Homo sapiens: one gene and its partners. The protein of the gene in region 4 purifies or fractionates together with the protein of the main gene of each other region. This does not show direct contact. Each region holds a gene or a part of one and is shown on either strand. Other genes may lie near its edges. The genes, in order: FH, IPO5, ALDH1B1, HEXB, RPL22, HNRNPH3 and HK1.

Region 1 (3,500 bases), on a different chromosome or scaffold from region 4:
TTTAAAAATTTCTATTTAATGCAGTTAGAGTAACTTGTAAGCTATTAGGAATTACTTATTCTTACCTTAATTTTCTTTTCTTTTCAGGAATTTAGTGGTTATGTTCAACAAGTAAAATATGCAATGACAAGAATAAAAGCTGCCATGCCAAGAATCTATGAGCTCGCAGCTGGAGGCACTGCTGTTGGTACAGGTTTAAATACTAGAATTGGCTTTGCAGAAAAGGTTGCTGCAAAAGTGGCTGCACTTACAGGTTAGTGATCACGTGAATTATTTCTCATTTTCATTTCTCATTATACGTGGTCTGTACATTTTCTGAGTGTTCCTGTCTTGAATTCTTGTGAATTTAAAGTTAGAAATGATATTTTTCCATCAAACATGTGTTTTAAGTATATTTCTGAAGTTATAATGTTAATTATTTGCCTTTTAAAAAATGTTCCATGTAGGAGTTTATACAGCATGCCATTAAAATCTACCAGTGTTAGCTTTGTTTACTAGTTAGTTTTCAATTAATTTCCCTTTAAAGTTTTGAATAGCAGTTTTCAAAATAGGCAGAAAAAACTGAGTGTTGAGTAAGTTATTTGAATAGTAAATATGTTGTAGACAGACTTAATTTCTTTTTTTTCCTATTATGTCATGCTGTGATAATTCTTTGAATTATTGACCTTTTTGAACCATGTCTTTCCTTTAGTAGAGAGAGTATTATACTTTAGATAATGATAACTATTATTAGGGCCAAGTTGTCATCTTCAGAAAACTCTCATTAAGATGTAGATGTTACCAGACGGTTAGGGTAGAGATAATTATACACTGCACATGATAGCTTACCAGCTGATTTGTCTTTAAACCATATTTTAATAGAAAAGAACTCTACTTTTAGGGTTTGGCAAATGTAGATTTATAAAATTTTTAACATGGGGGTTAACTGAGAACATCTAACTCATTTTAGCACACTGTTTTTATAGGGGATCTTGTGGGCTCCTGGCTAGGGGAGAGGATGAAGCACAGTAAAGTGGACAAAGAAACTTTAAAAAATTGTATTAGGGGCCGGACATGGGGGCTCACACCTGTAATCCTAGCACTTTGGGAGGCCAAGATGGGCAGATCACTTGAGGTCAGGAGTTCGAGACCAGCCTGGTCAACATGGCGAAACCCTGTCTCTAGTAAAAATTTAAAAAAATTAGCCGGGCATGGTGGCGGGCGCCTGTAACCCCAGCTACTTGGGAGGCTGAGGCAGGAGAATTGCTGGAACCCTGGAGGAGGAGGTTGCAATGAGCCAAGATCGTACCACTGCCCTCCAGCCTGGCTAAAAAAGCAAGACTCTGTCTCAAAAAAAAAAAAAAGAAAAAAGGTATTAGGAAAGGAGTGTGGTATAAACCAGAATGAATTCCCATATACTTTTTACTCAAGCATAGTCAGGCATCATATACGTGTGTTTGCAGTAGGATTGTGTTTTTTCTTTCAGTACATTTATCATACTTGTTATTTCATCTTTTTAAAATGTAGTGCCTGGCTAAGCACAGTGGAATTACACTCCTGTAATTCCAGCACTTCAGGAGACCAAGGTGGGTGGATCGCTAGAGCCTAGGAGTTTGAGACCAGCCTGGGCAACATGGCGAAACCCCATCTCTACTAAAAATTAAAGAATTAGCTGGGCGTGGTGGTGTGCACCTGTAGTCTTAGCTACTCTGGAGGCTGAGGTGGGAGGATTGCCTGAGCCATGGAGGTTGAGGCTACAGTGAGCTGTGATTGAGCCACACTGCACTCCAGCCTGGGCAGCAGAGTGAGACCCTGTCTGAAAAAACTTAAAAAATGTAATACCAGATTCTTTCTACTCCTTTAGGACTTCTTTTAAAAATGTAGACAAAATTTGAGTCTTAAGTAAACATTTTTTTCTGAAGTAAAATTTTTATTTTTTCGTATATTGGAACTTTCTGTTTCACTTGCTAATGGTAGAAAAATGTTTAGTTTAACTTGTTCACCCATCTAGGATATTTTTCTTTTCTTTAGGCTTGCCTTTTGTCACTGCTCCGAATAAATTTGAAGCTCTGGCTGCTCATGACGCTCTGGTTGAGCTCAGTGGAGCCATGAACACTACTGCCTGCAGTCTGATGAAGATAGCAAATGATATTCGATTTTTGGGTTCTGGTCCTCGGTCAGGTCTGGGAGAATTGATCTTGCCTGAAAATGAACCAGGAAGCAGTATCATGCCAGGTAATCACATAGCTAGTAAATGTTGGAGCTAAAACTTGACTAGGTCCTAGGCATTCTTAGCTATGGACCATGTCTCTCTTTGTTTAAAGTTATCCCGCAGCTGGATGCGCAAGGCGCACTGTTCCAGCATGTCTGTGGTCCTCTGGTCAGGACTGCTGGGCACGTCACCTGACAAGATAGGAAGAAAGAATCTGACTTAGCAGCAAGTATTTCGAATCCCACATTAGAAAATGTAGAGCAGGCTGTTAAAGTGATCAGCGCGGGTTGAATAAAAAGAAGTCATACCAAACTTCACTTATTTCATTTTTTGCATTCCGTTATATGCCTGTTAGATATAGCAAGTGACACAACAGTGTATGTCTGGATTTCAGCAAGTCATTTGATAGATTCGCATGATAGTCATTGATTCCAGTGGAGAAGCGTGGGCAGTGCTGGCAGATGAATGTAGCTGGGTGAACAGTGACATTTCAGAAGTGACTAATGAAGTGACTTCAGTCTAGAAGAATATATTGGTAACAAGCTGAAGGGCTCTGCCCTTCAACACTTTACTGGTGACTGAGGGTGAAGGAAGAGAATACATGCTAATCATATTAACAGTTAACAAAGTTGGGATAGCAATACTATGGATGACAGAACTGAGATCCATAAAGGCCACTGTAGCTTGGGCTAAAACTGACAATGTAACTTTTAATAGTGAGAAAGGCCTGACTCTAGATTTTTATGGAAATTATGGATCTGTAGAATAAGAAGAGATGAAATTTTGTTTTAAAGTACTTCATGTTGAAGAATGACATAAAGGTTTAGTTGATTGCAAATCCAGGGTGATTGCCAAAAGAAAGAGAACTGGGGGAGTCACAGATAAAGGCAATAATCCACCCAATAATCTTTCCAGTGTGTTAACTTGTACTGGTCAGAGGAATCTGGGTTGTTTGATTCAAACTTGGAGCTTGTCCAAGGAGTGTGAGCAGGGTAGTGGGGTTCCAGAGACTCGTGATAAATAGGAAAATTTTAGCTTAGCATCACCTTCCCCTAGGAAGCCTCCCATGTGTTAGTGAAGGGTCGCTTTTATAAGTGTTCTGATAGCAGCATACACTACTCTGTATTTACCCCTTATAATTGCCAGCTCTTTCTCCCTAGCCTCCAAGTTCTGCGAGGGCAGGGCCTGCATCTTTCTTATTCAGTGTTGTATATTGAGTGCCTGGCTCCATAAATATGTATAGAATGAATGAAAATCATGAAGGTGGAGAACTATATTTAATGTGTAGTTGTGGCTACTCGTTAGCCTT
Region 2 (3,500 bases), on a different chromosome or scaffold from region 4:
ACTAAGTAACATGGTGAAAAAGGCCCCAGACCGTCAACAGTGTGACTCTAGGCAATCATTTAACACTGGAATTTTAGGTTACTCATCTTTAATATAGTGAAAGCACCACAAAATACAAATGGTTGTTGTGAGCAGTATGTAAATGAACTAGGTAAACCTCAAGGTGTTTTGTTGAGTGAGGTATTACAACAAAATGCACATAGCACCGAAAGACATATCAGTTTAATTTCAAATTACTTATTCATAAATTAAGAGAGGAAATATATCTGACTCCTCTGCTAAAGACTGATAATTACATCAGAATGACAAGTCACATAAATCAGAAATTGAGGCATTTACAAGTCTTTCAGATGCAAGTGGTCACGTAAGTAAGTTCCAAAGGGAATAACTTACCTCATCTTGTAGTGACTCTTCGACCTGTTCATCATAGTCTTCATCTTGTCTTTTAACTAAAACACACCCAAATAAATGTTTTAAATGATTGCCAAGATGGTCAAGGATTATATTCAGAAATAAAAGCATGGAAAACTTACCTTGTCGTAATTCTTGATTTTTAAAATGTTCTTCAAGCTTTGCTTTCAATATACCTCCCAGTTCTTCAAAGTGTTCATTATTAAGGCATCCATCTCCCATTACTTCAATGCACTAATGAGGTTGAGGAAAGAAAGCAATCCATAAGATTTGGGGTGTTTGGAGTCCAAAGTTAAACTCCACTAAGAATCATATGGAAAAATGAACACAGTTCAGTATCCTGGAAGATTATTTACATATGCTTAGCTTGTATTTGTTAGAATGACAGCATTTTAGAGATTGGAGTTAGAAAAAAATATTTTCTTTTGAACACTACTGAGCATACCTAGGTGCCAGGCATCATGCTTGGTACTGAGGATTCAAAGATGGAAAACACACACACACACACACACACACACACAACCAGCTCCTAAGGAACACAATTGCTATATCCATACTCCGTACACACAACATACAAGAACACTGAAGGAAGGGCATTAGAGGTAGAAGAAATAAAATATAGGCAAAGGTATGGAAGCATGCTGTCTTTGGAAAATCAGAAGCAATTCTGAATTACAGGAGTGTAAATAAGGACATATAAAGATGCTGAGAAACTGTAAATCTTCAATCAAGATTGGAGCAAACTAGAGTTGTGCAAAATGGGAGTGACACTGTATGAGAAAGGAAGTGACTCAATGAAGAGGAAGGCAGTGCTTGAGGAAAGGAGAATGAACTGAGAGGAAAAGAAAGGAGACATCTGGAGTAGCCCAAGTGAGGCTATTTCAATGGCATGAAAAAGAGATGGGGCAATGAAAAAAAAAAAAAAGAGAAGAATTGAGGAAAGTGTAAAGAACAGAAACTGGAGATGATACCCAAGCTTCTATAGTTGGATTATTAAGTGCAAGACTAAAATACTAGAGTATTCAGAATTTCTTCTCTTTTTCCAAAGAATGCATGCTTCCATGCTGCTGCCCATATCATTCCCTCTACCTATACTGCCCTTCCAAGGCAAATTTACCCTCTTTAAAACAAACATAATAATACCAAAATATTAAAACAAAAAATTTAACATTTTTATTTTTTAACAAATCATACACTATAGCATATAAAAATTTATTTAGCTGCCTTACATCTGCAATCCCAGCACTCTGGGAGGCCGAGGTGGATCACCTGAGGCCAGGAGTTTGAGACCTGAGGAACATCTACTAAAAATACAAAAAGTAGCCAGGTGTGGTGGTGCATGCCTATAATCCCAACTACTTGGAAGGATGAGGCATGAGAATTGCTTGAACCCAGGAGGTGGAGGTTGCAGTGAGCTGCGATTGCGCCACTGCACTCCAGCCTGGGTGACAGAGCAATACCCTGTCTCAAATTTTTTTTTTTTACTTTTAGCAAGACTAATAAATGAACATACAACCTTATACATATTTTTTAAGAGAAAAATATTCACCTTTGCAAAAGAATGCATTATTTCTGAGAGGACGTCTGAATCTGGTTCTGTACCAATGGCCTTAATTAGAGCATCACACATAAAATGCCACATCTGTGTGAGATACTCAGGACCACGGACTCTTGCACACTCCAGGAGAAGAGGCATGGATTCCGCTGCTGCCACTCGAACACGTTTCATTGTTAAGGAACCTCAAAAGACTGTTTATTATTTTGCTTAAATGTTAAAGGGTTCAATGCACTAAAAGGAGTGCTAGGCAACTTCTGTTTATCTAAGATACCCAAGAGCTTGTGTTAAATATAAAGCATGTATAAAAATAGAAAAGACATACCTCCTGTCTCCTCTGTCACCTGTAATAGTGGCAGGAATGAGTCCAGCAGCAGTGAAGGGCTGCCTATTGCTCAAATGTAAACCAAAATACAAAAATGACTATGGAAGGACCCATGACCATTAGCATGCCTTAAGCTGTACCTACCTCAAAACCTTAGGTACTATCTGTTTCTAATAAAAGCAACTGAAGTATTTCCCTGAAAAAGACCACCGAGGACCTCTTCCTATGCTGGCCTTTTCAGTTTTTAATAAAGATTAAATTGCCTTTCCCTATCTAATCTCATTTATAAAATAAGGTCTTGATAACTTCCTCTTAAAAGCAATCCCGCTTTGTCCTCTGGCATCCTGGGAAGTTAAGTCTTTGTTGGGTAAAAGCTGTCTTCTGTAAAGGATACCACTATAGGATACCGTAAAAGGAATGATGACAAACGGGCTTTGGAGTCAGACAGATCTGGGTTTGTGTCTGTCTACCACTCTCGTGTGTAAAGGCATAAAAATGTACTGGAAAATATTAATTACGGCTATCATTATGTTGAGAAAGATATTGGAACGCAGATGTGGGTGGATCACCTGAGGTCAGGAGTTCGAGACCTGCCTGGCCAACGTGGTGAAAGCCCGTCTCTACTTAAAAACAAAAACAAACAAACAAAAAATACAAAAAATTAGCTGGGCATGGTAGCGCATGTCTGTGATCCCAGCTGCTCAGGAGGCTGAGGCAGAAGAATCGCTTGAACTTGGGAGGTGGAGGTTGCAGTGAGCTAAGATCGTGCCATGCACTCTAGCCTGGGCAACAGAGTGAGACCCTGTGTCAAAAAAGAATGCAGATGTGCCAAGTGATGTTTCCCCGCAAAGGTGCTATCCACATTTGAAATGTAGGGTTCTCACTGCTACAGAAAGCTGACCATCTATCAGTGGTTCTCTAATCTATTAAGACAGGTCTTGCCAGGCACAGTGCTCAGGTGTGTAATCCCATAACTTTGTGGGGCCAAGGCAGGAGGACTGCTTGAGCCCAGGAGTTTGAGACCAGCCTGGGCAACATAGGCAGACCTTATCTCTTAAAAAAAAAAAAAAAAAAAAAAAAAATCAAATCTAGCTGGGCTTGGTGTTGTGCACCTGGGTCCCAGCTACTTGGGAAGTTGTGGTTTCAGTGCGTCCTGATCACGCCACTGCACTCCAGCCTAGGTGACAGAGTGAGACACCATCTCTTAAA
Region 3 (3,995 bases), on a different chromosome or scaffold from region 4:
AGGCCTTCCCTGACCACCCTTTAAAAAATTGCAACCCTTCCCACCCCAACACTCTCTATCCCCGCTACCCTGCTTTACTCCTTCTCTATCTCACATCCCAAATACTATCTTTACAGGCTTATATGTTTGTCTGTCTCCCCCCAGTAAAATGCAAGCTCCATGAGCACAGGAACTTATTTTTCTGTTCCATTCACTGCTACGTCCCCGAGCCTAGAGGTATGCCTGCTACAGAGCAGCGGCTCAACACACAGTACTGAATGATACACTGAGAAAACACTGAAATTGCCACAAAGGCTGTCTAAGAATTGACCTAAGACTTGAGTAGAAATCAAAGGGACTTGGAGATGGTTGTTCTCTGAGAGGGACTTGCTTCATTTCACCTCTGTGCCTCAGTTCCCCCATATGTGAAATGCCTCATGGGGTTATGTTGAATGATGTCTTGCATATAAAAACCCTGGCAAGCTCCACTCAGGACATCAGAACTGGCCGTGCCTCAGAAATTGACCTAGCCCAGCATCCCCCAACCACAGGTCTCAGCATCCCTTTTCAGCTTTCCCAGAGGTGCAGCAAGTCAGGAGGCAGCTGAGAAGAAAAGCTACAACTCTGAAGAGTGTAGACTTCGTTAAAACAACTACTGTTATAAAACTTAAACGGCATATAATACATATTAAATGAAAATTAAACAGAGTGTAGTGTTCCCAGATTAGTTGAAGCAGTTATTCTTCAGTCAGAATTTGAATCTCTCTGCCTTTGATGTCTCATGAGTCTTGCTCCGCCCAGCGGTAAAATGGAATTGCACCTGCCTGTCCCTTCACCCCCAGCCTCTCACCCTCCACCCCTGGGCAGGGAGAGGAACAAAAAACTCAATCAGGAAAGCAAGGCTCCATGTAGGTCCCCGGCCCCATAAAAATCAATGTGATGGGCGTGGTGGCTTACGCTGGTAACGCTTTGGTAGGCCGAAGTGGAAGGACTGCTTGAGGCCAGGAGTTTGAGACCAGCCTGAGCACATAGCAAGAACCGTGTCTCTACAAAAAAACAAAAATAAATTTGCCGAGCATAGTGGTGCATGCCTGTAGTTCTAGCTGCTTGGGAGGCTGAGGTGGGGGCAATCACCTGAGCCCAGGAGGTTGAGGCTGCAGTGAGCCATGATTGTGCCACTGCACTCCAGCCTGGGTAACAGAACAAGACTGTATCTAAAAAAAATAATAATAATCAATGCTGACCAAGAAAGTTTCCCTTCCCCTTGCGGGTGTTAGGAATAATGCTCAAAATCCTAAGGAAATTGAACACTCGAACACAGGATTCTTAGCAAAGCAATTTTACTTCTGCGCAGAGGGATGCCTCCTTGGCCAGTTGCCATGAGAGCACACCTGAACAAAGGGGCACGAGAGCCTTTATTCCTGATGCAAGTCCTGCCCCTGTACCCTTTCCCCATTGGCTGGGGTCAGGTCGTACAATCTAAACTAATCCCGGTTGGCTAAACATTTGATTTATTTTAGATAGAGTGGGCACGTAAAAGAAAGTGGAGAGAAAGGGGAAAGGGTGTCTGTAATGAGCTAGAAAGTTAGTCTTCTTTCCAAATAAGCAAAGGAATGTGAGCTGGTACTGATAACGCTTGGTACTGTGGCATGCCTGGGCATCTAACAAAGGCAAAAAGGAGAAAAATGAAAAAAAAAAAGGGGGGGATACTAAGAATTAAAGAATAAAAGATTGATCAGATTATTTGAAGAGAAACCTCATCATATCCCACAGGGGGAAGCTGAGTCAGCAGATCTGCCAGGGGTGCCCAGGGTTCCATTTAGCTCAGGACTTTGCCATATGCTGGGACACAGCCCCCTTGCCACCAACAGGCCTGGCTCTGAGGGTGAGGAGACCAAAAGGAGGTAGGGGAAAGGGGAGTCACCAACCCATGGGGTAAGGATTGGAGGGGTGAAGCAGTCAGGAGAGGTGGTCATAGGCCAAGGCTGGCAAACCTTTGCAGCCACACCAAGGCCGTTCCTACTCTTGGGGCCTATATGGGGTTCTTGCTGGGGCCTCCACTTGCTGATAGGAAGATCACAGCTCACAGAGCATCATGCTTTACAGTTTGCAGGCTGTCTTCTCACGGGAAATTTGCCAAGCCTCTCTGCAGTCCCTGGGTGGTCAGGGTTGATGATGACCCCCATTCTGGAAGAAGGCTGGGCATCAGAGAGGTTCAGGGACTCACCGAGGACACACAGCAAGAAAGTATAGGAGCCTCACCCCAGACTTCCACAAACCTAGCTTTGCATATCCTCCTGAATACAGGCAATTTTTTACAGTTCACCCACAGCGGGAAGGACCGGACCTTCTCTATCCGCGGGAACTGCAGCGGCGCCCACCTCACCCCTTCTGCGGGGGAAAGGGCGCAACCTTTGGGCTTGTCCAAGCCTCTGGGCTATGGTCAGGGGCCCTCTGTTGAAGTGGGCCGAGTGGGCAGGAGTGTTGAGGTCGAGCTAACGTGGTAAGGTCTGGGGGCGTCTGTGTCCTCGGGGCTCCTGTAGCGTCACCCAGAGGCGGGGGATGGGATTAGGGGACGTGGAGAGAGTCCTACAGTGCAACGGCGGAAAGGCCAGCCCCCAGATGCGGACGCCGCGGCCCAGAGAGGAAAGCCCCCACGCGGAGCCAGGAGCTGCGGCTTCCCGAGGGAGCCGAGGGGAGACCAGCGTTAGTTACCTGCAGCAGGCTCGGGCTCCGGTTCAGGATCACGCTTGGGTTCTGGTTCCGGCCCTCCCAGCTCTGTCCACATGGCCGCCCAGGGCTGGCCGCAGGTCCCGCCTCCGCGCAGCCCGGGGCTCAGCGGCCAATGAGGCTCCGCCTGCGCCTGGGGCGCTGCCTACGTCCTGTCGCCGGCCAAGGCCGCTCCTCCCTCGCCCCGCCCGGTCTTTCCCGGTCCCCGCCCCTCTACCCCCGGCAGCCCGCACCGCTTCAGCGCTCCCTCCCTCGGGTCTCCGCAAGCCCAGTGTCCACGTTGCTCAGATCTAGGCTCCTAAGGCACTGGTTTGGGAGCGGAAACAGAGATACCCAGAGAGGGGCAGGGGCTTCCCCAGGTCACACAGCAAAGTTTTCGGAGACCGAACCCCAACTACACTTTGCATTTCTCCCCGCTGCAAGACGCTGCTTAATCGACTGCCATCCTTGAGACTCCCCTTAACCCCTTCTCTGCCTCGCCTCTCCCTCACTTTTTTTGTCCAGGATTCACTAATTTCTGTCCTCCACTTTCACTGCTCCTTTCTTCAGTTCCTTCAAGAAGATTTTATATTTGGGCATTTTTCAAAGTACATTTTTGTCCTAAGGACAAAAAGAATGTATGCACAGTGTAGAAAGCTTGGAAAACACAGGAAAGGATGAAAAAAGAAGAAAAATATCACCTGTAATCTCTTCACCTACGGTAGCCATTATTACGGTGTTCGTCCTGCTAGTATTGTTTCCTCTGCATCTTTCAAAATTATTTTAATAAAAATAAAATCATATAGTAACCTCTGTTGTGCTGCTTTAAAAAAAATTTAAAAACTTAGCGCTGTATTTTGAAGTTTTCTCCTATCACTAATTACAGATGACATCATCCTCTCCAAGGTGGCATAGAATTCTGTTGTAGGGGTAAACTGTTGGACATTTAATTGTCTCCATTTTGTTGCTATAAAGGTTGCCAAGATGGACCACTGAACATGCATCTCACTCGCTCCACCCTCGCTGCACCTTCCTTCTGGCTAGGGAGGTCCCAAAGCTAACCGCCATGTTTCCCAGCCTCATTTGCAGTTAGAGTTCTGGATGTGGACTAGGTGCTGCCAATTAGTAGTACTCTGCCGGATGTGGAAGGCGGGCACGCATTGGAGGGTATTGTCCTGCCCCTGTAGGGTGGCACTAGCAGGATAGCAGAAATGGGAGATGTTCTGCGGCAGCATTCCTTGTCCCTTCTCCAGCTTTCTGGCTGTGGACCGGCCGCTGTGGCTGTAGCCGCTCCTTGACCTGGCTTC
Region 4 (3,500 bases):
GAAAAAATTCAGAGTATTAATGTAAATGTAAAAATAATTTTTAGGCCAGGCGTGGTGGCTCACACCTGTAATCCCAGCACTTTGGGAGGCTGAGGCAGGCGGATCACAAGGTCAGGAGATTGAGAACATCCTGGCTAACATGGTGAAACCCTGTCTCTACTAAAAATACAAAAATTAGCTGGGTGTGGTGGTGTGCACCTGTAATCCCAGCTACTCGGGAGGCCGAGGCAGGAGAATTGCTTGAATCCGGGAGGCGGAGGTTGCAGTGAGCCAAGATTGCACCACTGCCCTCCAGCCTGGCGACAGAGCAAGACTTCAACTAAAAAGAAAAAAAAATAATAATAATAATAATAATTTTTGGCTGGGCACGGTGGCTCACACCTGCAATCCCAGCACTTTGGGAGGCCAAGGCAGGTGGATCACCTGAGGTCAGGAGTTCGAGACCAGCCTCAACATGGAGAAACCCCGTCTCTACTAAAAATGCAAAATTAGCTGGGCGTGGTGGTGCATGCCTGTAGTCCCAGCTACTCAGGAGGCTGAGGCAGGAGAATTGCTTGAACCTGTCAGGCAGAGGTTGCAGTGAGCCGAGATCGCGCCATTGCACTCCAGCCTGGGCAACAAGAGCGAAACTCCGTTTCAAAATAAATAAATAAATAATAATAATAATAATTTTTAAATAGCATAGTTTCATCATAATGATCAAGTGAAGGTGCAAAAAAACATGGGAGGAAACCTCCCCACCCCTACAAATTGGCAGGTGATGGTGGGGATTAACCAATAAAAAAAAGCCCATAGGAGAAAACAGTTATTGTCAACCTTCTTCCTAACCCATACCACCCCTGAGGTTCCATATTCCTTTGGAATAGTTCCCTAGGTATAAAGGAGCTCCCGGACTCCTTTCTAATGCCACTTACAAAAAAAGTAAGAGGTGGTCACAAAATTTAAATGGCACTAACTAGAAGTATGGTGTGGTGGCCACGTATTCCTTTTTTTTTTTTTTTTTTTGAGACAGAGTCTTGCTCTGTCGCCCAGGCTGGAGTGCGGTGGTGCGATCTCGGCTCACTGCAACCTCCACCCGGGGAGGGTTCAAGCAATTCTCCTGTCTCAGCCTCCCTAGTAGCTGGGATTACAGGCGCACGCTACCACGCCTGGCTAATTTTTGTATTTTTAGTAGAGATGGGGTTTGGCCATGTTGGCCAGGCTGGTCTCGAACTCCTGACCTCAGGTGATCCACCTGCCTCAGCCTCCCAAAGTGTTGGGATTACAAGTGTAAGCCACCGCACCTGGGTGGCCATGTATTCCTAATCAAAAGTCTAGACACATGATTTGACAAATGGGAGTATATGTAAAGGGCCAATGGGCAGTGTTTAAACTGTCCTTCTCTTAACAGTCTTGGCTAAATACATGTTATACGTGGCTCTCGCACTGAAAACAGGAGGGTGATTCTCAAGGGGACCTCCACGTCACAGCTGAGGAAATACACTTCCCTAGGAACTGAGGAAAGAATGCCCAGTGCTTATACAAATTCCCCTGTTCCAAACTACACAATAGTAACCAACATAAAGTTACAACATAAAGGAGACATCTTCAGAATAGACAACAGATTAGAATGAAGTAATTACTTACCAGAGTTTTAAGAATAATCTTAACTGGCAGATAATGTCTGGATGTATCAATCAAAATTCCTCTGTGAGAAAACCTTGGAGAATCAATAATGGTGGATTCATTGATGGTGAACTATGACAAAATAAAATTTTGATTTAGTTTTAGAATTTTCTGTTGTCTTGAACTCAATGAAGACTAAATCTATTTATACAAGCATTTCATAAAATATTAATTTAGAACAACAAAAATGTATGAAATTTACATTTACCGGCTAAGACAAATATCTGGGGAAATGAAATCTTCAGGAAGCAATAGCTAAACAGGTTACATTTTTTTCTATTAGCAATTTGTCTAACAATTTTTAGTAACATATAATAATCATACTTACAGTTCCATAAGAATCTTGATAAACTAACTGGCTAAAGGTCTCTAAACCTGAGGAAAGTAAAATTTATTGCATTAATTTATAAATCAACAAATTGAGATGATAAAAGTTATATTATTCAAACAGACTCATAACCAGGTAAGGCAAATATAATTGAATATAGTGTTATACCTCTATCCTCTAAAATATATTGTTATACCTACACCCTCTACCATAATTTCTAAAATCAAAGCCAAATTAAAAAAAAATCCATTGCACTTCTCTACTCATCTAATAAAAGTGCTTTACTTCATTGTACCCATACCCTGGGGGTTGTTTCAATATAGACAAAAGAAGAATAGTAATTTAATAAAATACTGGTTCCTTAATAAATTTATGGCATCATGAGAAAGAATTTTTATAATCAAATATAGTCACTTTTAGAAGGTATCTAAATGCAACAGGGAAAAATGGCTGGAAAAACCATGAAACTATAAATAAAGGCCAATTTACAATATACAGCATTTTACTTATAGCTGCAAAGACTACCTTCTGAACATTTTTTACTCAAGTGGATTATTCCCTTAATATACTAGTTGACAGGCTAATTCTTCTAACTGGCCTTGACTTTATTCAGATTCCTCATTCTAGCTGACAGCTATATAGCCAGGGAATTTTTAACCTAAGAACAGTTCAGTCATCTTTGCTACGCCTTCCTGTCTCTCCAACCTCGTCAAGTACAGGTTCATGCTGGGAAGAATAACTCTGAAAGTTTCTGTTAAGTGACATTACGTTCAATAATGATCAGTTTAGAGTACATTACTCTGAAAGTCTGATGGTAAACAGAAAATATGGACTTCTTGGACTAGAAATCTAGTCACTGCATACTCGCAAGAGTGGTTTTATCTTTTTTTTTTTTTTTTTAGACGGAGTCTTGCTCTGTCACCCAGGACGGAGTGCAGTGGCGCGATCTCGGCTCATTGTAACCTCCACCTCCCGGGTTCAAGTACTTCTCCTGCCTCAGCCTCCCAAGTAGCTGGGACTACAAGCGTGCACCACCATGCCCGGCTAATTTTTGTATTTTTAGTAGAGATGGGATTTCACTGTGTTGACCAGGCTGGTCTCCAACTCCTGACCTCAAGTGATCCACCCACCTCGGCCTCCCAAAGTGCTGGGATTACAGGCGTGAGCCACCGTGCCCAGCCTTGCTAGAGTTCTTTATTTTGGTATGGATCAGAACAAACATCAATAAGCGTCTCTTGGCTGGGCGCAGTGGCTCACGCCTGTAATCCCAGCACTTTGGGAGGCCAAGGCAGGTGGATCACGAGGTCAGGAGATCGAGACCATCCTGGCTAACACAGTGAAACCCTGTCTCTACTAAAAATACAAAAAATTAGCCAGGCGTGGTGGCAGGCGCCTGTAGTACCAGCTACTCGGGAGGCTGAGGCAGGAGAATGGCATGAACCCATGAGGCGGAGCTTGCAGTGAGCTGAGATTTCACCACTGCACTCCAGCCTGGGCAACAGAGCAA
Region 5 (3,500 bases), on a different chromosome or scaffold from region 4:
TCTGTCTCAACAGAATATTTTATCTGTCTCCCAACACTGAACTAATATCATTTTTTGTTTTGGTTTTGGAGACAGAGTCTCACCAGCGCAATCACAGCTCACTGCAGTCTCAACCTCCCAAGCTCAAGTCTCGACCTCCCAGACTCAAGTGATCCTCCCACCTCAGCCTCTCAAAGTGCTAGGATTACGGGCATGAGCCATCCCACCTGGCCCCAGCTGACTTTACAATTTTTTTTTTTTTTTTTTGAGATGGAGTTTAGCTCTTGTTGCCCAGGCTGGAGTGCAATGGCGCGATCTCGGCTCACTGCAACCTCCGCCTCCCAGGTTCAAGTGATTCTCCTGCTCCGCCTCCCAAGTAGCTGGGATTACAGGCATTCGCCACCAGGCCCAGCTAATTTTGTATTTTTAGTAGAGACGGGGTTTCTCCACGTTGGTCATGCTGGTCTCCAACTCCCGACTTCAGGTGATTCGTCCACCTCTGCCTCCCAAAGTGCTGGGATTACAGGCGTGAGCCACTGCGCCTGGCTTAACATTTTTAAGAGAAGGGGTCTCTCTATGTTGGCTAGATTGGTCTCAAATTCCTGGGCTCAAGTGATCCTCCCACCTCAGCCTCCCAAAGCGTGGGGATTACAGGTGTGAGCCAGCATACCTGGCCCTAATATCGGTTTCTTAAATGTTCAGTCTTTTTTAAAAATGGTAACAAATCCCATTTACATACATACTATGAGACAACATCCCAGTGTAAACGTACTTGACTACTTCCACACAAGGCCGACTGGGCCTCGCCACGAAAGGCTTAGAAGGACAACACTAGACAGGAAACCCAAGGCCAGACTTTTACAAGATACGCCTGTAATCCCAGCACTTTGAGAGGCTGAGGTGGGTGGATCTCCTGAGCTCAGGAATTTGAGACCAGGCTAGGCAACATGGCGAAACCCTCTCTCTACAAAAAATACAAATATTAGCCGGGTGTGGTGGCATGTGCCTGTAGTCCCAGCTACTCAGGAGGCTGAGACAGGAGAATCCCTTGAGCCCAGGAGGCGGAGGTTGCAGTGAGCCGAGATCACACCACTGCACTCCAGCCTGGGGGACAGAGAGACCCTGTCTCAAAAAATAAATAAATAAAACAAACTTTTACAAGGTACATGCAACCAAAGCTAAAAGCAACTTCTGAATCTAAGGAGTATAAAACACTGTTCACAGCACTATCAGAAAATAAGCCTTCAACCTAGTAGAAAGAGCAAAGACATAGGGACTGAAACAATTCTAGACCTGGTCCAGGGCCATGTGTGGTACAGCAGAAGCAGCAGCCACTCAGGAGCCTGAGATATTCTCTGCAAACTACTGTGTGGGCCTCAGCAAGACATTCACCTCCTTGTGCTTCAGAAAGCTTTGCCCAAAAAGGACCTTTTTAGTTGTTTTCTTGCTATGGCAATGACATGAAGTCCCTTTCAGCTCAAAATTCCTATAATTTTCTGTTTAAAAACTCCAATACAAAATATGTTAACTGGCTGGGTGCAGTAGCTCACACCTGTAATCCCGGCACTTTGGGAAGCCAAGGCAGGAAGATTGCTCAAGCCCAGGAGTTCAAGACGAGCCTGGGCAACTTAGGAAGACCCTTCCTCTACAAAAAAATTTAAAAATTAGCTAGGTATGGTGGTGCATGCCTGTGGTGCCAGCTATTCCAGAGGCTGAGGTGGGAGGATCACTTGGGCCTATGAGGTTGAGGCTGCAGTGAGCCAGGATCATGCTACTGCCCTCCAGCCTGGACAACAGACCCTTTCTCAAAAAATAAAAATTTGGGAGACTGAGGTGGGCAGATCACGAGGTCAGGAGATCGAGACCATCCTGGCTAACATGGTGAAACCCTGTTTCTACTAAAAATACAGAAAATTAGCCAGGCGTGGTGGCGGGCGCCTGTTTCCCAGCTACTTGGGAGGCTGAGGCAGGAGAATGGCATGAACACGGTAGGCGGAGCTTACAGTGAGCCAAGATCGTGCCACTGCATTCCAGCCTGGGCAACAGAGCAAGACTCCGTCTCAAAATAAATAAATAAATAAAAATTTGGGGCCAGGCGCGGTGGCTCACGCCTGTAATCCCAACACTTTGGGAGCCCGAGGCAGGCGGATCACAAAGGCAGGAGATTGAGACCATCCTGGCTAACACGGTGAAACTCTGTCTCTACTAAAAATACAAAAAATTAGCCGGGCATAGTGACAGACACCTGTAGTCCCAGCTATTCGGGAGGCTGAGGCAGGAGAATGGCATGAACATGGGAGGCGGAGCTTGCAGTGAGCCGAGATCACACCACTGCACTCCAGCCTGGGTGACAAAGAGCAAGACTCCGTCTCAAAAAAAAAAAAAAAAAATTTGGCTGGGCACAGCGGTTCATGCTTGTAATCCCGATACTTTGGGAGGCCGAGGCTGGCAAATCACCTGAGGTCAGGAGTTCAAGACCAACCTGGCCAACATGGTGAAGCGCCGTCTCTACCACAAAAATACACAAATTAGGTGGGCATGGTGGCACACGCCTGTAATCTCAGCTACTCGGGAGGCTGAGAAAGAGAATCACTTAAACCTGGAAGGTGGAGGTTGCAGTGAGCCAAGATCACACCATTGCACTCCAGCCTGGGTGACAGAGTGAGATTCCACCTCAAAAATAAATAAATAAAAATAAAATAAAATGGCCAGGCGCAGTGGCTCATGCCTGTAATCCCAGCACTTTGGGAGGCCGAGGTGGGTGGATCACCTAAAGTCAGGGGTTCGAGACCAGCCTGACCAACATGGAGGAACCCCATCTCTACTAATAATACAAAAATTAGCCAGGCGTGGTGGCAGGCGCCTATAATCCCAGCTACTCGGGAGGCTGAGACACCAGAATGGCTTGAACCAGGGAAACGGAGATTGTGGTGAGCCGAGACTGCACCATTGCACTCCAGCCTGGGCAACAAGAGCAAAACTTGGTCTCAAAAAACAAAGTAAATAAAATAAAATAAACAAAAAGTATACATTAACCATAGATGGGGCACAGAGTGATTAGGTCAGAAATCTTGAATTCTGCATCTCAAGATTCATAAATGACTTAAGTTTTCTATCCTAAGGAGGCTTCCAGAAGGAAAGACAATCACACAAACAGATGAGTGGGCTGAGGGAATGGCTCAGAGGGAGGGAGGCAGGAATAATGCCAGAACAGGGCCACCATGTGAATACCAAACTGGAAGACACCAAAGTTGAAAAAGAGGAGGCCACAGAAAAGCCAGAAGTCACTGGATAGAGAAAGAACTAAGGAAATAGGGGATTTCTTGAAGGACACAGATGCAAACAGCATCTACATAAAGGCAATAAACTATAAGAGGTTACCTAAATTCCATTCTGGATAATTCGTGACCATAATTATTTTGTGTTTAAAAATTATTTTTGTTGTAATGATACTGATCCTGGCAATAGTTCAACCTTCTGGAGAATTTAGAGCAAATGCAAATTTAGGAGACTTCTACACA
Region 6 (3,500 bases), on a different chromosome or scaffold from region 4:
TCTTGGTGGATCATAAAATCCTTTGATTTCACTCCTGCTACTTCTGAAGATCTCAATATACCTATTTAAAAATGTTTTAAGGTACAGGTTTCAGCATAAATGTATTAGTGTAAATTAGATACTGGGCAAAATGCAGTAAGTTTTTCTATATCTAGATACATAACCCAATTTAAATTGCCTAAATACACCGTAAGTTAACAGTTTAAACCTACAAACTTAATTAAATATTTAAGTTTTACAAAGAAATTAGTCACGGAAAACAATTCATAAAGTATATTTTTACTTTGTCTCTTTTAGTACATAATAGGTGTTTTAAAGGAAATAGGTGATTATACAAAAGCATTTATCAACAACATCCTACAGAGAAATGGAAACAATCTAATTTTAATTTAACTATTAGCATTAATTCCCCACCCAAATCTGTAGTTTCCAAGTTAAATTTAGATAATTATCAATTCTTTTAAACTACCCCAGAAAAATGTTATGGCTACCCCCCCATTTAAGCAATAGTGACCCACAACCCCCAAAAATAAAAATTTAACACCATCCCAAACTCTCCATCCCCACCTGTGCCCTATTCTTTCCTTGTGTTTCCCCAGAGCATTTTCTGCTATCTCCTTTGAAGCAAACTGCACGAAGGCCTCCCCTGTGCTTCTCCCCTGGTAGTCCATCGTCAATGTTATCCCATTTGGCACGATTTCCAACCCTTTAACCCAAGGACAAATAACCCCATCAAGGGGAACAGTGTTAAAGGCTGAAACATTCCCATCTGAATCAAATATTTAAAACAAGTCTAAACAAAACAAAACAAAACAAAAAAGCTTAGTTTCCCATCACCCCATAATACAAATGAAAGATTTTTTCAAATATTACTGGATTAAATAAATTTTTTGCGACCAGTGTAAAAACACTGTGTAATTACACACTCTAAAAGCCCACCTATATTACATGAAAAAAGGCTACAAAATCAAATATATGCTCCATATACTAATTCACGGTTCATTTCATCACAATTCTCAAATATGTTACTGCACATTAACTAGGTTTTACATATTCTACACATTCTGTATTGAATATTAACTGGAGCATATTATTTTAATACATTAACCAAGACTATCATAGTTAAACTTAAAAGTTCCAAAATCAAATGGGTTTTACAAATTAAAAACAGTAAAACAATACAAATATAAAATTACAATACTACTAAACTTTGACTAATACTAGAGGTACCTTGAAAGAACTGAACTATTTCCTCTTTGCTGCAACCAAATGGTAGTCCACGAAGTCGTACTGTCCCATCACTAGCGTCATTTGGACCATTATGTTTCATAACCCAATCCATCTCAATACCGTTTGATTTAAATGCTATAAAAAATAAACAAGCACATAGAGCAGTCAATCAAAATATACTCTTGTCAAGAGGTAATGAAGAAACACCTCTCAGAGGTGCCACAAGAGGAAATGTAACATGGGGCCAACTGCTGTGACAATGCCACAACAAAATTGTAGACCACCTTTCATATTTTGGGGTACGGAAAAGGCAATGAGACCTGACCCCCTCCTACGGAAAAGTACTGAATTTCGTAGTATCAATATTATATATTGCCTAATTTTAAGAAAACTTGCATAATTCTACTACCAGAGTCTTCAAACTATTTGTGTCCCCTGAATGCCAACTCTAGCCTTTCCTTATCTCTCAAATTTTCATTCACCACTTTTCAGGTTTTTATTCAACTGATTATTCAAATTCTTTAAAACTTATTCAGAAGTTGCATATAATACCAGTATCCACTAACATCAAGAGCCTAAGTAAAAAAATGCAATGAGTACTGATTGACGTTGGACAAATATCACAGAAGTCTAACCCTTTTAAATGCACTACAATTTTGAACACATCAAACTGTCTTTGAAGGGCCAACACTCCCACCTCTATTTTAGCCAAATCTAGTTTAAACTCACCAAGAGCAAGATTATAAAATGACTGAATTAATCAGATTAAAACTGAGGTCAAAGGCCACTCAAAAGTGAATGCCTTCCAACAGTACCTGTGTTTTTGAAGCCACTGGAGACAGTGTTTAGAAACCAGTTTACTCAAATTTTTAATCAAATAGATTTAAACAAACTTTAATAGGTAATATACTTTTTAATAAAGCATAAAAGGTACATCTAGAAGCCCCCCTTCCCCTCCAAAATAACCTCAGTTCCCAGTTCCCTTCCCCAGAGGCAACCATCCTTCCTTTTAAAATTCCATAATATTTACAAAAGAGGTGAATGCAGAAGTCCTTCAGCTGCAGAAACTTACCAGAACCTTACAAATCTCACTATGCAGCTGTAGGAATCCTACTCACCTGAGTATTTCAAACCTTTCCCTCACCACCTCCTCCCCTGTAAACAAAGTTTGTTCATTTGATTCCTTTATGTTTGAAGATCATATTTCGTATCAACAGCATTCACTAATGCTTAATTTCATGTCATCTATTTGTTGGTGCATCTCTTAGGGGTGGCATCTGCAAAGGGTAAAATATTTTTCCCTAGAATTCATGCACTTAAAATAAGCTAATGTAGAAATTCTCTGGAAGTAGTTAAGTACCTCTAGTGTCAATCACCTTCAGCCCTAGGTGCCACTCTAGACATAGAAAACCAAAATGGGAATACAAACTTTTAACTGACATTACAACTACTTGTTATGCACACAAATAAATATTATGAATGTTCTGGGTCTGAATCCCTACTCTGCCACTCACTGGCTACCTGAACCACTTTACCTCTGAGCCTCTTCAATTGTAAACTATAGCAGTTGTACCTGTACCTCACTGGACTATTCAAGTGCTTGGTCTGCCTCATGGTAAGCATTTACTGATGGCAATTGTTACTGGACTTTAAGGGGCCCTGCAAAAGCCAGTGAGCTATACCATACACAAAATATGTGAACCCTGAAGGACAGAAAACAATTCAAGCCTTGAAAAGAACTGAGAATTATTAAAAATTTTATTTCCCAAAGCCAGCAAAGGCTTTTATAAGTTTAATACTATTCTAAAGAGTAGCTCTGAGAGGAGGCGGCCCCAATCCAGTTTGGGAAAAAAAAAAAGTTCAGAGATGTTTTGAAAATGCCTACCGTTTTATTTATTTTTTTTAAATAGCACCAACCTAAAAAACAAGTGTTTCCCATAAACGGTGATTTACACAGAACGGAAAAAGTGGTACAGATCTACCCTCACTGCTTCATGAAAAATTGAAGAACTCTGCAAATTCGACCTTAATCTGTTGTGAGAGGATCTTAGTGGTACGATTTGCATTTAAGGAGCAAATGCTTAAAAAAAAAAAAAAAGAAAAGAAAAAGAAAAATTAATTTACCCATAAATCTTAGCAATTCACAGGAAAAAATTACTAGCAAGCCAATTGGATTTTTGGATCAGTCTGTACCAATGATAAGACCCAATGAAAACAAAAAAAGTGTTATCAGTGTTATCTGTAAGAAACACTAAACTGTTAACACAATT
Region 7 (3,500 bases), on a different chromosome or scaffold from region 4:
CCCCATGTAGTCCAAGAAGTCAGAGATGCAGGAGACAATGTGATCAAACAGCTGCAGGGGAAAAGAAAGGATCGCCCGTGCTCTCTGTGGTTTTAATTTTATCAGTGCACATGGACCAAAGTGTGTATACACACACACACGTAGGAAAACACACCCCACACACATGCAGAGTGAGCCTCCTTTTCCAGAATCTTCTCAGCCACCAGAGTGTCACAAGCCAGGCATGGCAAAAAGCATCTGGTGCTTCTGGGCCACAAGGACACAAATCCATGTGGGCACCCCGTGGCGGATTTTGGTCATCACGTGACTGCCGGTGCCACTGGCCGTGTGTGCAGTGCACATGCACTATGGTTTTGTAATCTCACCTCTTCCCCAGTGCCCTGCATGATTTCAATAGGAATGGCGTAGATCTTGTTGTGCATTTCCACCGTTCTCTTTTTCCCACTACGGATTTTCACCAGCAGCACACGGAAATTGGTTCCTCCAAGATCCAGGGCCAAGAAGTCACCATTCTCTGTTGCAGTCAAAAGCGTAAAGAATGTCAAAAACAGCTAAGTGCCTCTTGGCAGCCAGTAACCCCAAGACTCCAGACTTTCAAGGGGAGAACCCCATAGCAAACATAGAGGAGAAGCTGCAACTCCTCCCTTTAGGACACAGCACAGACTCAGAGGAAGAGTGGGCACCACATCTCTGACCACCACAGACTTGGAGCCACACTGGGAGGAGAGCATGTGAGTAAACCACCTGTCACAATACACAGACTTCACCAGGGCTGCAACAATGAAAATCTCCTACAAAAAATAATAATTTATGTCAAGGTGTGGGGTATTTGCAAAAACAGCTGCATCATTCCCTTCCCTGCATGTGCAAAATCCTTCTTTGCAACATGACTGCAGTTCCTCCCACTGAAACATGGAGTCAATTTCTCCTCCCCTGGGATCTAGCCCAGCCCTAGGATTGTTCAGGCCAACAGAGTGTGGCAGAGGCAAAGCTGAACCTATCCCCAGCCTGGGCTTCCAGGAGGCTTTGAAGTCTTCCCCTCTCCCTCGCAGCCCTTGCTGCCACCACTTGAACAGCCAGGTGGCCCACTGAAGGATGAGACACAGGGCCAGGGGCCCCTGCACCCCAGCTGACAGCCAACTGCTGGACATGTGGGGAAGGGCGTCTGAGATCTGCCTCCCAGCTGACTCAACAGCTGACTGCAGATGCAGGAATGAGGCCGGCAGAGGTCAGCCAATCCTGGCCCTGATGAGCAGAACTGTCCAACTGACCCACAGATGCATGAACAATAATAAAGCGTGGTTGTTTTAAGCCACTAAGTGTGAGGGTGGCTTATAATGTGGTATTAGGTAACTTACACATAGGACACATTCCTGTCACAAACATTCGTTACTCCAAGGACCCACCTGAAAAGCTCTTCAGATTCCCCATAATGATCAGCTCCAGTGAAAACTACCAAGGTTAGCATAAAGGGTTGGATTTTGTTCTACAATTTGCCTGAATGCGAAACTCCCCAGGCCCTGAATGCCTCATGCATACTCTATCAAGATTTAAGAAGGGTACACTGAGTGTTTATCCTTCTGCTGGCTTTCCTTGGCTTTGGGAAAACCTAATCAGTGCTGTGGGATTTGCCCAGCTTTTAAGAACACTTCTTTTTTATTCATTTAATTTTTTTTGAGACAGGGTCTTGCTATGTTGCCCAGACTGGTCTTGAACTCCTGGGCTCAAGCAGTCCTCCCACCTCAGCCTCTTAAGTAGCTGGATGACAGGCGTGTGTCACCTTGCCCAGCTAAGAGCACTGTTCTGAGCAGGGCTGTGGTTTTAGAGATAGCACTTGCCTGGGAGGTCTGACCAGGAAAATTAAACTGCCCTGAGTCACACACATGACAAATCAGTTAATAAAAATGGAAAACAGAGATGTGAGGGAGTTTCTAGCTCTGGCAAAATCGTGCATCACCAGTGTGAAGGCATCCACTGGCGAATCCAACCTCCCCCACTGCGGCTCAGTTCCTGGCAGGAGCAGGACAGGCATGTCAGCCCCCAGCAGGCCCTCACCGGTCCCGTCGGGAGTTCTCCGGACGAAGGAGGGCAGCATCTTAACCACGGCATTGTTGTGCGTCTGCTTCCTCAGCCCCAGCTCCATCTCGGCCCGCATCCTCTTCTTCACCTCCAGCAGCATGTCCTTGGTGAGGTGGAAATGAGCCAGGGTCTCCTCTATCTGCCGGTGCTGCTCGGCCAAGCGGTAGGCCACCGCCGTCACCATGGCAGCCCCCTTGCCGCTGCCACTCTCCGAGAGGAGGAAGCGCACATCGGAGTCTGGCACCAAGCGCCTTAGAGTCTTGTGGAAACGCCGGGAATACCTTATGGGGGCAGGGGGGACATTCCACAACAGCTGGACTGAGCATTTATTGGGGACCTCCGGCCACCCTTTCTTTCTCCACTCTTTAACTCTTTTTTCTTTTCCTTTTTTTTGAGACAGGGTCTTGCTCTGTCACCCAGGCTGGAGTGCAATGGCACAATCACAGCTCACTGCTGCCTCAACCTCCCAGGTTCAGGTGATCCTCCCACCTTAGCCTCCCGAGTAGCTGGGGCCACGCCCGGCTAACTTTTTTGTATTTTTAGTAGAGACAGGGTTTCGCCATGTTGCCCAGGCTGGTCTCAAACTTCTAGGTTCAAGCTATCCACCCGCCTCAGCTTCCCAAGTGCTGGGATTACAGGCATGGGCCACTGTGCCCAGCCTAATTCCATTTTCTGCACCTGCTTTTTTCATTACACAAATCATATACATCCACTGTAGAAAAGTTAGCAAATGCAGAGAGGTAAAAAGGAAAAATGAAATCGTTCATAATCACACATAAAAAGAGAAGACTCTCATTATTACATGAGTATCACATACAAAAAATTCCAGGTCTAAAAAGATTTTGCCCTCCACCATGACAGGAAGATAATACAGCACAGTGGTCAAAAGCACGGTGTTCAAAAGTCAGATGGGGCCAAGTGCGAGGTGGCTCATGCCTGTAATCCCAGTACTTTGGGAGGCCAAGGCAGGTGGATCACCTGAGGTCAGGAGTTCAAGACCAGTCTGGCCAACATGGTGAAACCCCGTCTCTACTAAAAATACAAAAATTAGCTGGGTATGGTGGCAGATGCCTGTAATTCCAGCTACTCGGGAGGCTGAGGCAGGAGAATTGCTGGAACCTGGGAGGCAGAGGTTGCAGTGAGCTGAGAGCACACCACTCCGCTCCACTCCAGCCTGGGCAACAGGGCAAGACCCTGCCTTCAAAAAAAAAAAAAAAAAAAGGTTAAGATGATATACTTCATGTTATGTGTATTTTACCACAATCTAAAAAAATTCTAATGTGATGCTGCAAATCCCTAGGCTTTCTTGTCCAAAAAATTAGCCAAGAAATTACAAAGAAAAAAGAAAGAAATGGCTAATAAAAGTTTCATTATCAAGATTTTTGCAAATACTTTAAAAATATTTTAAAAATACAATTACG

The links.
Region 1: the proteins of HEXB (region 4) and FH purify together in Homo sapiens (affinity purification with mass spectrometry; 2 studies listed by BioGRID, with this or other methods). This does not show direct contact.
Region 2: the proteins of HEXB (region 4) and IPO5 purify together in Homo sapiens (affinity purification with mass spectrometry; 2 studies listed by BioGRID, with this or other methods). This does not show direct contact.
Region 3: the proteins of HEXB (region 4) and ALDH1B1 purify together in Homo sapiens (affinity purification with mass spectrometry; 2 studies listed by BioGRID, with this or other methods). This does not show direct contact.
Region 5: the proteins of HEXB (region 4) and RPL22 purify together in Homo sapiens (affinity purification with mass spectrometry; 2 studies listed by BioGRID, with this or other methods). This does not show direct contact.
Region 6: the proteins of HEXB (region 4) and HNRNPH3 purify together in Homo sapiens (affinity purification with mass spectrometry; 2 studies listed by BioGRID, with this or other methods). This does not show direct contact.
Region 7: the proteins of HEXB (region 4) and HK1 purify together in Homo sapiens (affinity purification with mass spectrometry; 2 studies listed by BioGRID, with this or other methods). This does not show direct contact.

What each region holds. Positions count from the first base shown.
Region 1 is NC_000001.11:241,502,756-241,506,255, reverse strand, and holds part of FH (fumarate hydratase, mitochondrial), read left to right. Parts: intron 1-87; coding exon 88-253; intron 254-2,010; coding exon 2,011-2,214; intron 2,215-3,500. UniProt on the Homo sapiens protein: Catalyzes the reversible stereospecific interconversion of fumarate to L-malate. Experiments in other species have demonstrated that specific isoforms of this protein act in defined pathways and favor one direction over the other.
Region 2 is NC_000013.11:98,012,675-98,016,174, reverse strand, and holds part of IPO5 (importin-5), read right to left. Parts: intron 2,134-3,500; coding exon 1,961-2,133; intron 646-1,960; coding exon 534-645; intron 450-533; coding exon 394-449; intron 1-393. UniProt on the Homo sapiens protein: Functions in nuclear protein import as nuclear transport receptor. Serves as receptor for nuclear localization signals (NLS) in cargo substrates.
Region 3 is NC_000009.12:38,391,507-38,395,501, reverse strand, and holds the start of ALDH1B1 (aldehyde dehydrogenase X, mitochondrial precursor), read right to left. Parts: upstream 2,801-3,995; 5' UTR 2,695-2,800; exon of another isoform or gene 1,069-2,694; coding exon of another isoform or gene 937-1,068; intron 1-936. UniProt on the Homo sapiens protein: ALDHs play a major role in the detoxification of alcohol-derived acetaldehyde. They are involved in the metabolism of corticosteroids, biogenic amines, neurotransmitters, and lipid peroxidation.
Region 4 is NC_000005.10:74,695,233-74,698,732, reverse strand, and holds part of HEXB (beta-hexosaminidase subunit beta isoform 1 preproprotein), read right to left. Parts: intron 2,041-3,500; coding exon 1,994-2,040; intron 1,738-1,993; coding exon 1,627-1,737; intron 1-1,626. UniProt on the Homo sapiens protein: Hydrolyzes the non-reducing end N-acetyl-D-hexosamine and/or sulfated N-acetyl-D-hexosamine of glycoconjugates, such as the oligosaccharide moieties from proteins and neutral glycolipids, or from certain mucopolysaccharides.
Region 5 is NC_000001.11:6,193,096-6,196,595, forward strand, and holds part of RPL22 (large ribosomal subunit protein eL22), read right to left. Parts: intron 1-3,500.
Region 6 is NC_000010.11:68,335,064-68,338,563, reverse strand, and holds part of HNRNPH3 (heterogeneous nuclear ribonucleoprotein H3), read right to left. Parts: intron 1,366-3,500; 5' UTR 1,343-1,365; coding exon 1,231-1,342; intron 707-1,230; coding exon 568-706; intron 62-567; coding exon 1-61.
Region 7 is NC_000010.11:69,381,347-69,384,846, reverse strand, and holds part of HK1 (hexokinase-1), read right to left. Parts: intron 2,361-3,500; coding exon 2,056-2,360; intron 515-2,055; coding exon 366-514; intron 52-365; coding exon 1-51. UniProt on the Homo sapiens protein: Catalyzes the phosphorylation of various hexoses, such as D-glucose, D-glucosamine, D-fructose, D-mannose and 2-deoxy-D-glucose, to hexose 6-phosphate (D-glucose 6-phosphate, D-glucosamine 6-phosphate, D-fructose 6-phosphate, D-mannose 6-phosphate and 2-deoxy-D-glucose 6-phosphate, respectively).